Linked DNA regions of Homo sapiens: region 2 is linked to region 1. Evidence: fine-mapped expression QTL. A gene starts in region 1. The other region holds a variant in brackets. All regions are shown on one strand. Distances are between the middles of the regions. Region 1 holds the start of COMMD7 (COMM domain containing 7). Region 2 overlaps COMMD7 (COMM domain containing 7).

The links. PIP is the estimated chance that this variant, and not a neighbour inherited with it, causes the effect.
Region 2: its variant is the best candidate, but not a certain one, in a credible set for the expression of COMMD7 in whole blood (INTERVAL, PIP 0.87).

The regions. Positions count from the first base shown.
Region 1 is chr20:32,741,377-32,746,891 of GRCh38, reverse strand. It overlaps COMMD7 (COMM domain containing 7), which reads left to right and starts at 3,425. Exons shown (of 9, transcript NM_053041.3): 1 at 3,425-3,584. The coding sequence starts at 3,501. RefSeq lists enhancers at 1-41, 1,930-2,874, 3,762-4,589, 5,259-5,515 and silencers at 3,170-3,399, 3,580-3,649, 4,634-4,808.
Region 2 is chr20:32,707,764-32,712,763 of GRCh38, reverse strand. All of the region lies in intron 3 of COMMD7 (COMM domain containing 7), which reads left to right. Among named protein-coding and RNA genes, the nearest start is that of COMMD7, 33 kb to the left of the region's middle. RefSeq lists a silencer at 1,083-1,377 and an enhancer at 3,396-3,902. The variant G/A (reference allele first, on the strand shown) is at 2,778.

The sequences.
Region 1 (5,515 bases):
CGTAATCCCAGCACTTTGGGAGGCCGAGGCGGGTGAATCACGAGGTCAGGAGATGGAGACCATCCTGGCTAACACGGTGAAACCCCGTCTCTACTAAAAATACAAAAAATTAGCCAAGCGTGATAGCGGGCACCTGTAGTCCCAGCTACTCGGGAGGCTGAGGCCGGAGAATGGCGTGAACCCGGGAGGCGGAGCTTGCAGTGAGCCGAGATAGCACCACTGCACTCCAGCCTGGGCGACAGAGAGAGACTCCGTCTCAAAAAAAAAAAAAAAGACTGGAAAAGAAGAGTCACCATATTCCTATAGTATTGGGTGTCAGTTTCAAGTGAATTCCTTTCCTTTTCTGTATTTTCTGTCACATGAGCTAATTCCGTTCCACAAATACAGTATTTATCAAGTGACTCAGCACCAGTCACTGTGGAAGCAGAAATGAAAAGAAATCCAGTGGTTTTCTCCAGGATGTTAAAAACAAAACAAAACTTAAAACAGGTTCATTTTATTTTTTATACCTAAACAGTTGATTTAACACTTAAAGATATGAAGAAATGTAATGCCCTGATGGGGATCTTCTTTTTTTTTTCCCCCAACTATTTATTTATTTATTTTTGAACAGAGTCTTGCTCTGTCGCTCAGGCTGGAGTGCAGTGGTGGGATTTCGGCTCACTGCAATCTCTGCCTACTGGGTTCAAGCGATTTTCCTGCCTCAGCCTCTAGAGTAGCCGGGATTACAGGCATGAACCACCATGCCCGGCTAATTTTTGTATTTTTAGTAGAACCAGGGTTTCACTATGTTGGCTAGGCTGGTCTTGAACTCCGGACCTCAGGTGATCCACCGGCCTCAGCCTCCCAGAGTGCTAGGATTACAGGCATGCGTCACTGCGCCCAGCCCAGATCTTCTTTTTTAACAAGGTTAAAAATATTTAAAAATAAAAATTCCGGGCCAGGTGCAGTGGCTCACGCCTGTAATGCCAGCACTTTGGGAGGCTGACGCAGGTGGATCACTTGAGGTCAGGAGTATGAGACCAGCCTGGCCAATGCGGTGAAAACCCATCTCTAGTAAGAAGACAAAAGTTGGGCCAGGTGCGGTGGCTCGCGCCTGTAAACCCAGCACTTTGGGAGGCCGAGGCAGGCGGATCACCTGAGGTGGGGAGTTCAAGACCAGCCTGACCAACATGGAGAAACCCGTCTCTACTAAAAGTACAAAATTAGCCGGGGTGGTGGCACATGCCTGTAATCCCAGCTACTTGGGAGGCTGAGACAGGAGAATCACTTGAACCCGGGAGGCGGAGGTTGCAGTGAGCCGAGATCTCGCCATTGCACTCCAGCCTGGACAAAAAGAGCAAAACTCCGTTTCCAAAAAAAAAAAAAAAAGACAAAAGTTAGCTGGGTTTGGTGGTGGCCACCTGCATTCCCAGCTATTCGGGAGGCTGAGGCTGGAGAATCACTAGAACCCGGGAAGCAGAAATTGCAGTGAGCCGAGATTGTGCCACTGCACTCCAGCCTGGGTGACAGAGCCAGAATCTGTCTCAAAAAAAAAAAAAAAAAAAATTCTTGCACGGTGAGTAGGGCCTCTGAGTTCCTGTCTGTTTGTCACCCGAAGGTTTATTCTCTTCCAGGTACTCCAAACTCGGACTGTGTCCTGTACACATTCTCAAAGCACCTCCTACTTTTTGGCATCCCTTAATACTTTCACACACACTTGCGTCTGCCCCCTGGGTCAATTCTGACTTCTCAGAGGCCAGGCACTGCATCTGGTTCATCTGGTTGTGTCACTGTGGAATCCCCACCCCCTATCATGTCATGGTATCTGCCTCACAGCAGACCTTCTTTTTTTTTTATGGAGATGTGGTCTTGCTCTGTCGCCCAGGCTGGAGTGCAGTGGCGCCATCTGGGTTCACTGCAGTCTCGATCTCAAGATCTCAAGTGATCCTCTTGCCTCAGCCTCCGAGTAGCTGGGACCACAGGCATGTGCCACTCAATATTTGTTGAATGAATGTATGAATGATATAATGACTGAAGGGGATGGGCTTGGCCTTTGGGTAGAAGACTTTTTTGTTTTTTCTTTGAGACGGAGTTTCGCTCTTGTTGCCCAGGCTGGAGTGCAATGGCGCGATCTCGGCTTACCGCAACCTATGCCTCCCGGGTTCAGGGAATTCTCCTGCCTCAGCCTCCCGAGTAGCTGAGATTACAGACATGCACCACTACGCCCGGCTAATTTTGTATTTTTAGTAGAGACGGAGTTTCTCCATGTTGAGGCTGGTCTCAAACTCCTGACCTCAAGTGATCCGCCCGCCTCAGCCTCCCAAAGTGCTGGGATTACAGGAGTGAGCCACCGCGCCGGGCCGGGTAGAAGACATTTTGTTTATACTTTTACAGAAGGGATTTTCAGGAAAGGGTAGAGGAGAGGAGGAGGGCTGGTGAGGAAGGCCAGCCAAACCCCCCACATTTCCCTGCTCCAGGTTTCTCGGCATTACCTCTTTACCCTCAAGGCTGGACTTAGGGGCTAGGTGAAGCCCTTAGGCTTGGCGTTCAGTTCCTAGATTCTGGGTAGCATGTCTCTATTTTCTCATGTTTCCAGTGGGGATTAGGGTAATATTCACCTGGGAACTGTGAGGAGCCCCTGGGAAGAGAGGGCATGGGGGTTAGAGTGTTTGAGGGGCTGCAGTGATGATCACGGTCTCAGTAACCTCCCCTCACCCACCTCACCACCACCCTCCCTGCCCCGCACAGTCAAAGCCCTCGCACTATTTTGAGGAAACTTTGGTAAGTCAGTTTCTTCCACTCCAGAAGGTCTCAAAGTGTAGTCCCTGGGTGCTTATTGGAAATGCAAATTCTCAGGCTCCACCCTGGCCTTTCGAATCAGATCCTCTGGGGGCGGGGCCCGGCAATACCAGGTGATGCTGGGGTGATGCTGATGCCCTTCCAAGGTTGAGACCTAGTCTCTACTCTGATGTCAGCTCTCCGAGAGACACTCTGGCCTGCTTTGTTCCCTTCCCTGTCCCCAGTGTCTGGCATCGAGTAGGCTGCCATAAATATCTCTGGAGTGCATAGTAACAGTGATGATGATAATAGCAGCTAGCCATTGATTGAAGACCTCTTGTGTGCCGGTCTCTGCGTTAAACATTTCTGGAGGCTTAACTCATTTAAGGAGCTACCCCAGCCATCATTTTCTCAGATGGTGAAACTGAGGTTCAGAGAGGCCAAGCGCCGTACCCAAAGGTCACTCAGCGGGAGAGCTGGCAGGAAACCTCGCGTCTGCCGGTGCCGGCGCCGCCCCTGCCCCTCCCCGGAGCCCGGCGGCCGCGCGTGTCCGCGGCCCTGCGAGGGCTCCCCGGCTCCGGACAGCCCAGGGCGGCCGGGGGAGGAGTGCGCTGCGACGGCCGTGGCGAAAGTGCGGTTGTGGATGCGCGGAGAGGCCGGCAGCGGTGGCAGCGGCAGCGGAGGAGGAAGCTGAGCAGGGCGGCGGCGGCGGTGGAACCTGCGGGGCTGGGGCGCGCGCCATGGGCCGCCTGCACTGCACTGAGGACCCGGTGCCGGAGGCCGTGGGCGGCGACATGCAGCAGCTGAACCAGCTGGGCGCGCAGGTGGGCCCGGCGGCGGGGCGTGGGGCGCGGGGCCCAGGTGATTCCAGGATCCGGGCCTGGGGTGGGGGGGACGTCCGGGGGTGCGCGGGAGTTGGGAGAGACTAGACAGAGCGGCGTCTTGTGGGCGTTTGGGGTGTGTGAGGTGGGTTCGGGGCGAGGCTAAGGTGAGCTGGGGTCTGAGGAGAGTGTGGGGAGCCAAGGGATCTCCGGAGGCCTAAGGGCCACCTGAGGGGTCCGAAAGGCTTTGTGGGGTCTCAGAGATGGGACTACGGGACCTCTGCGGGGTCCTGGGGCCGAGGAGAGCTTTTGGGGTCCTAGAAGAGGGACGGAGGGGAGTCTAGATGAGGCTGAAGGAGTTTGGGGAACTGAAGGAACAGACTAAGGGCGTGGGGAGTTTTGGGGAGCAGTGGGGTCCAAAGGGAGATAGATGTTTGGCAGGGAGGCCGAGGAAGCCTGAGGGGAGTGGGAGGGCCCGAGAATCTGAGGGGGCCCGGGGAAGCTTGGCCTGGGCTGCCGTCTTACATCTCAGTGTGACATGAGTGTCAGTAATAGCCAGGCCCCACTGGGGCTCTGTGGGCCTGAGGGGCTCGATCTGGGACAAGGCTGATGACACCTTCCACCTCCACCCAGTTAAGGAGAGTCACTGGGATTCACATGGAAAGAAACCTTATACACTGTGTACAGTGGGGGTCTTCATCCTCGATGGTAGGGGAGCTAGCAAAGCCTTTTTCTCCCCCTTCAGGCTGCAGGTGCCAACCAAGGCAGTCTTGGAGGCATCCTGCTTCTGTGCTGGTTGGGATGCCTTTTCATACCACCAAGGCTGCTGAAATAGGTGAGAATGACACTTCTCACCCCCACTGGGAAGATACATCTATTTCCCCCGCTAGGTTGTCACTTCCCAGGAGGTAGCGCCCCTCTTCTTTCATCTCCATACCCCCCACAACTTCCCACACAGTAGTGCTGCTTGCGAGATAAAAACCAAACTTAGAACTTGTAACGACAGGAAGGTTCTAAGCTTGAGCTATGCAATAGAAAAATTTGCAAGCCACATTTCTAACTTTGCATTTTGTAGTAGCCACATTTAAAAATTAAATAGAAATGGAAATTAATTTTTTTTTTTTGAGACGTAGTCTCATTCTGTCACCCAGGCTGGAGTGCAGTGGCGCGATCTCGGGTCACTGCAACCTCCGCCTCCCAGGTTCAACCAGTTCTCTGTCTCAGTCTCCCGAGTAACTGGGACTACAGGCACACGCCACCATGCCCAGCTAATTTTTGTATTTTTAGTAGAGATGGGGTTTGACCATGTTGGCCAGGCTGGTCTTGAACACCTGACCTCAGGTGATCTGCCCACCTCAGCCTCCCAGAGTGTTGGGATTACAGGCGTGAGCCACTGTGCCCAGCCCTGAGTTTATCTTATGCAAGCATCCTAGAGTTTATTTACACAAACCTACTGCACCCTAGGATATATGGTATAGCGCATTGCTCCTAGGCTACAAACCTATACAGCATGTGACTGTACTGAATACCATAGGCAACTGGACTATAATGGTAAATATTTGTGTGTTTAGACAAATCTAAATAGAAAAGGTACAGTACAAATACAGTATAAAAGATAAAAAATAGGCCGGGCACGGTGGCTCACACCTACCCTAGGACTTTGGGAGGCCAAGGTGGGCGGATCACAAGGTCAGGAGATCGAGACCATCCTGGCCAACATGATGAAACCCTGTCTCTACTAAAAATACAAAAATTAGCTGGGTGTAGTGGCGGGCACTTGTAGTCCCGGCTACTCTGGAGGCTAAGGCAGGAGAATCGCCTGAACCTGAGAGGTGGAGGTTGCAGTAAGCTGCGATTGCACCACTGCATTCCAGCCTGGGCAATAGAGTGAGACTTCATCTCAAAAAAAAAAAAACAACTTTCTAGTTGGGTAC
Region 2 (5,000 bases), 34 kb after region 1:
AAAAAAAAAAAAAGTCTCCGTGTCAAAAAAAAAAAAGGGACCATCTCAAAGTTATCTGTGTTTGAAGAAGGATGTTCTTAAATTTCCCCACGTGTCATGTTCTGCTGACTGCAGCTGTTGGAGTTTACACAATTTTCTTTTTTTTTTTTTTAAAGGTCTGGGGTACATGTGCAGGGTGTGCAGATTTGTTACATAGTATGCCATGGTGGTTTGCTGCACCTGTCAACCCATCACCTAGGTTTTTTTTTTTTTAATTTGAGACGGAATCTTGCTCTGTCACCAGGCTAGAGTGCAGTGGCGCGATCTTGGCTCACTTCAACCTCTGCCTCCTGGGTTCAAGCAATTCTCCTGCCTCAGCCTCCTAAGTAGCTGGGACTACAGATGCATGCCACCATGCCCAGCTAATTTTTATACTTTTTAGTAGATACGGAGTTTCACTACATTGTCCAGGATGGTCTCGATCTCTCTCTTTTTTTTTTTTTTTTTTTTTTTTTGAGACGGAGTCTTGCTCTGTGGCCCAGGCTGGAGTGCAATGGCACGATCTCGGCTCACTGCAACCTCTGCCTCCCGGGTGCAAGCAATTCTCCTGTCTCAGCCTCCTGAGTAGCTGGGATTACAGGCGCCTGCCACCACGCCCGGCTAATTTTTGTATTTTTAGTAGAGATGGGGTTTCATCATGTTGGTCAGGCTGGTCTCGAACTCCTGACCTCATGATCTGCCCACCTCGGACTCCCAAAGTGCTGGGATTACAGGCATGAGCCATCGTGCCCAGCCCTCAGTCTCGATCTCTTGACCTTGTGATCCACCCGCCTCGGCCTCCGAAAGTGCTGGGATTACAGGCACGAGCCACCACGCCCAGCCCATCACCTAAGTATTAAGCCCAGCATGGAATAACTATTTTTCCTAATGCTATCCCTCCCCCCACCCCACCCTCCAAGAGGCCCCACACAATTTTCATTCTGTCTGACATAAGGTCAAATGTTGCAGGTCTGTCTTGTGGCTGGCATTTGCTTAGGACAAAGGAATCACCACAGGAAAAAGCTGAAAAAGAAGTTAAGAGCTTGAGGCCTAGCATGATGCCAATCCATGTTTCAAGTCTGGCCTCTGCCCTCCAGAGGTAACTTCAGGATGGAGAGCTTGCTCTTCCATCCCTGCAGCTTTGTTGACTTCATTGTCAGCAACTGTCAAGGCATTGCCTGATACCGCAGCACCAAGATAGCGTCTGAGAATGACCTGGTGTAGAAAGAACTTGGTGTGGGGACCCTCTGGCCTATAAGCCACTTGGCTCTGTCAGTTGCTGACTGTTGTGGCCTTGTTCCTTTAACTGTTTCCTTTTTTTTTTTTTTTTAAGTAACATTTTTTTTTTTTAGACAGAGTCTCACTCCGTCGTCCAGGCTGGAGTGCAGTGGTGTGATCTCGGCTCACTGCAACCTCTGCCTCCCAGGTTTAAGCGATTCTCCTACCTCAGCCTCCCAAGTAGCTGGGACTACAGGCGTGTGCCACCACGCCCAGCTAATTTTTGTATTTTTAGTGGAGACGGGGTTTCACCACGTTGACCAGGCTGGTCTCAAACTCCTGACCTCAAGTGATCCACCCGCCTCAGCCTCCCAAAGTGCTGGGATTATGGGCGTGAGCCACCACCCCCGGCCAAAGTAACACTTATTTTTATTTATTTATTTTTAGAGATAGAGTCTTGCTCTGTCACCCAGGCTGGAGTGAAGTGGTGCCATCATGGCTCACTGCAGCCTCAAACTTCTGGGCTCAAGCGATCCTCCTATTTTAGCCTCCTGAGCAGCTGGATTACAGGTGTGCACCTCCACACCCAAGTAATTTTTTATTTTTATTTTTGTAGAGGCAGGGTTTTGCTATGATGCCCAGGCTAGTCTCAAATTCCTAGCCTCAAGCAATCCTCTCACCTCAGCTTCCCAAAGTGCTGGGATTATAGGTGCCTTTCCTTTTTTTCTTGACATTATATTATGCAGATTGGTCCATCAACAGCTACTGAGCTACATCTATTTTTTTTTTTTTTTTTTTTGAGATGAGGTCTCACCCTGTTACATAGGCTGGAGTGCAGTGATGCAATTATGGTTCACTGTAGCCTCAACCTCCTGGGCTCAAGCCATCCTCCCACCTCAGCCTCCTGAGTAGCTGGGACCACAGGCCTGTGCCACTATACCTTGCTAATTTTTTTATTTTGTAGAGATGGGGTCTCCCTGTATTGCCCAGACTGGTCTTGAACCCCTGGGCTCAGGTATCCTCCCACCTCAGCCTCCCAAAGTGCTGGGATGACAGCACTTGGCCTTACATAATTTTTTTTAAGCCTGGATAGCAATCCATTGTAAGGATTCTTGCATTCAACGTGCTTTTATTGAGTGCCAACCAATAAACTTTGCCAGGCATTTCTCTCAGAGCTTGGGACACAGCAGTAGGCAAAATGAGCCTAGTCTTTGTTCTTATCAAGCTGGTGTTCTAGTGGAAAAATTGATAATAAATATATAACATAAAGTTGGGTAGTTATAAATGCAATGCAGAATATCCCACAGCATTATACGAGTATGAGTAAAGGGCAGTGCTATTTAAATTAGAATGAGGCTGGGATTGGCAGCTCATGCCTGTAATCCCAGCATTTTGAGAGGCCAAGGTGGGAGTATTGCTTGAGTGCGGGAGTTTGAGCTGGCAAGATAGTGAGACTCTATCTCTAGAAAAAAAAATTAAAAATTAGTCAAGCATTGTGGAGCATGCCTGTAGTCCCAGCTACTTAGGAGCCTGAGGTGGGA[G/A]GATCCATTAAGCCCAGGAGGTCAAGGCTGTAATGAGCCGTGATTACACCACCGCACTCCAGCCTGGGTGACAGAATGAGATTAAAAAAAAAAAAAAGTAAAAAAAGAAAAAATGTGAAATAGAATGGTCGGGGATCCTTTCTGAGGAGGTAAGAGTCAGGCAGAACCCTGAATGAAGCGAAGGGATGAGCTATGTGCAGAGAACTGCAAGGGCAAATGGCCAGGGGTAGAAAGCTGTCTGGCATATTCTAAAAATAGCACAGTAAGCAAGGGAGAGAGCCTAGGGGTTCTAAGAGGAGGCCAGAGCATGCAGGGTGTTGTACAACCTTTGGATTTTACTGTGAGTGAAATAGGAGATAGTAGAGGGTTTTGAGCAGAAAAAATAGCATGGTCTGACCTGAGGTTTTTGTTTGTTGTTTTTGTCATCGTTTGTTTTTGAGACGGAGTCTCGCTCTGTCGCCCAGGCTTGAGTGCAGTGGCAGATCTCGGCTCACGGCAACCTCCACCTGCCAGGCTCAGATGATTCTCCTGCCTCACCCTCCTGGCTAATTTTGTAACAGGCGCCCAGCCTGTTTTTTTTTTTTTTTGAGACAGAGTTGCTCTGTTGCCAGGCTGTAATGCAGTGGTGCCGTCTCTGCTCACTGCACCCTCAGCCTCCCAAGTAGCTGGGACTACAGGCGCATGCCACCACACCCGGCTAATTTTTGTACTTTTAGTAGAGACGGGGTTTTGCCACGTTGGCCAGGCTGGTCTCGAACTACTGACCTCAAGTGATCCACCCCCTCAGCCTCCCAAAGTGCTGGCATTACAGGCATGAGCCACCGTGCCTGGTCTCTCCATGACCTTTCATCCCTACTATCCACATTGCTAAAGAGCTTCCCCTGTATATCTCAGCGTGCTTTTGGGTGCAGCTTGGTTGGGTGAATTCTTGGCAGTGCAATTCTTGACTATCTGCATTTGCCAAATTTTCTCCCAAAAATGCTTAATGTTTCCTGGTAAACTAAGTTAAAATAATAGCTGGGCATGGTGGCTCATGTCTGTAATCCCAGCACTTTGGGAGGCCAAGGTGGGTGGATTGCTTGAGGTCAGGAGTTTGAGACCAGCCTGGGCAACATGGCAAGACCCTGTCCCTACAAAAATTCAAAAAATTAGCTGGGCATCATGGCACACGCCTGTAGTCCCAGCTATGTGGGAGGCTGAGGTGGGAGGATTGCTTGAGCCCCACCCACCCACCCCGGTGTGGTAGGAGGTGAGCTGAGATTGCCCAACTGCACTCCAGCCTGGGCGATAGAGTGAAACCGTGTCTCACTGTCTCAAAAAAAAAAAAAAAGTTACAATAATAAAGCCCAGTGTTTGGGGATTGTCAAATAAAGCATTGGGTTTGAATTGGATATAAACTAAGACACTGTATTCATGGTAGTTAGGAGTTATTTGGATTGGCTGGGAAGTAGCCACCTTCTCAGAGGGCCTTTATGGCTAAGGTTTCCCGGGGTCTTGCCTTTTTTATTCCGTGTGGCTTCCTTGCTCAGTCTGATTTTGGAGATAAAAGATTTCCTCCCTTTGTTTATATGGTTGATTTTACCGGTACAACAGCCTTTAGGATTGTTTTTCTGGAGTGAGTTGGGGGTGGGGACTTGGGTTTAGGGTATAGGTTCAGGGCCTTCCCTTGATGGTGGTTGGCATCTTCCTATTCTTTAATTAGTCATTTTCTGGTGAACTAAAAAGTGGAAAATTTGAGAGTGGTTGCCAAATTGTGACTGGGGATGTAGCCTGCAGGTTAAACATTGAGAAGCCCAGATTGCTGGCTTTGTTTTCAGGAATTGGAGCCTAGCAAAACAAGGTGACCACCACAGGGAAGTGTTCCTAGGGCTTCTGAGAAGTTTTGACAGCCCCTCTGGAAGTGACTTGTGAATTGTAGAGGTTAGTCTGTTTAGTCCATCTTGGTGTACTGTGTGAAAGCTAACTTCTTAGGACAATGCCATCCAATAGAACTTTCTTTGCAGATGTAAATGGTCTGTAATCTTCAGTGTTCAGTATAATGGTCACTGGCCTTGTGTGACTGTTTGACACAGGAAATAGCTAGTGAGACTGAGGAATGGAATTTTAAATTTTATTTAATTAAAATTTGCATAACCACATGCAATAGTGGCTACATAATGCATTGTGGAGCTCTAGGTGGTTGCCCCCTGTGCCCAACCTGACATTACACTCCCCTGCCTCTTG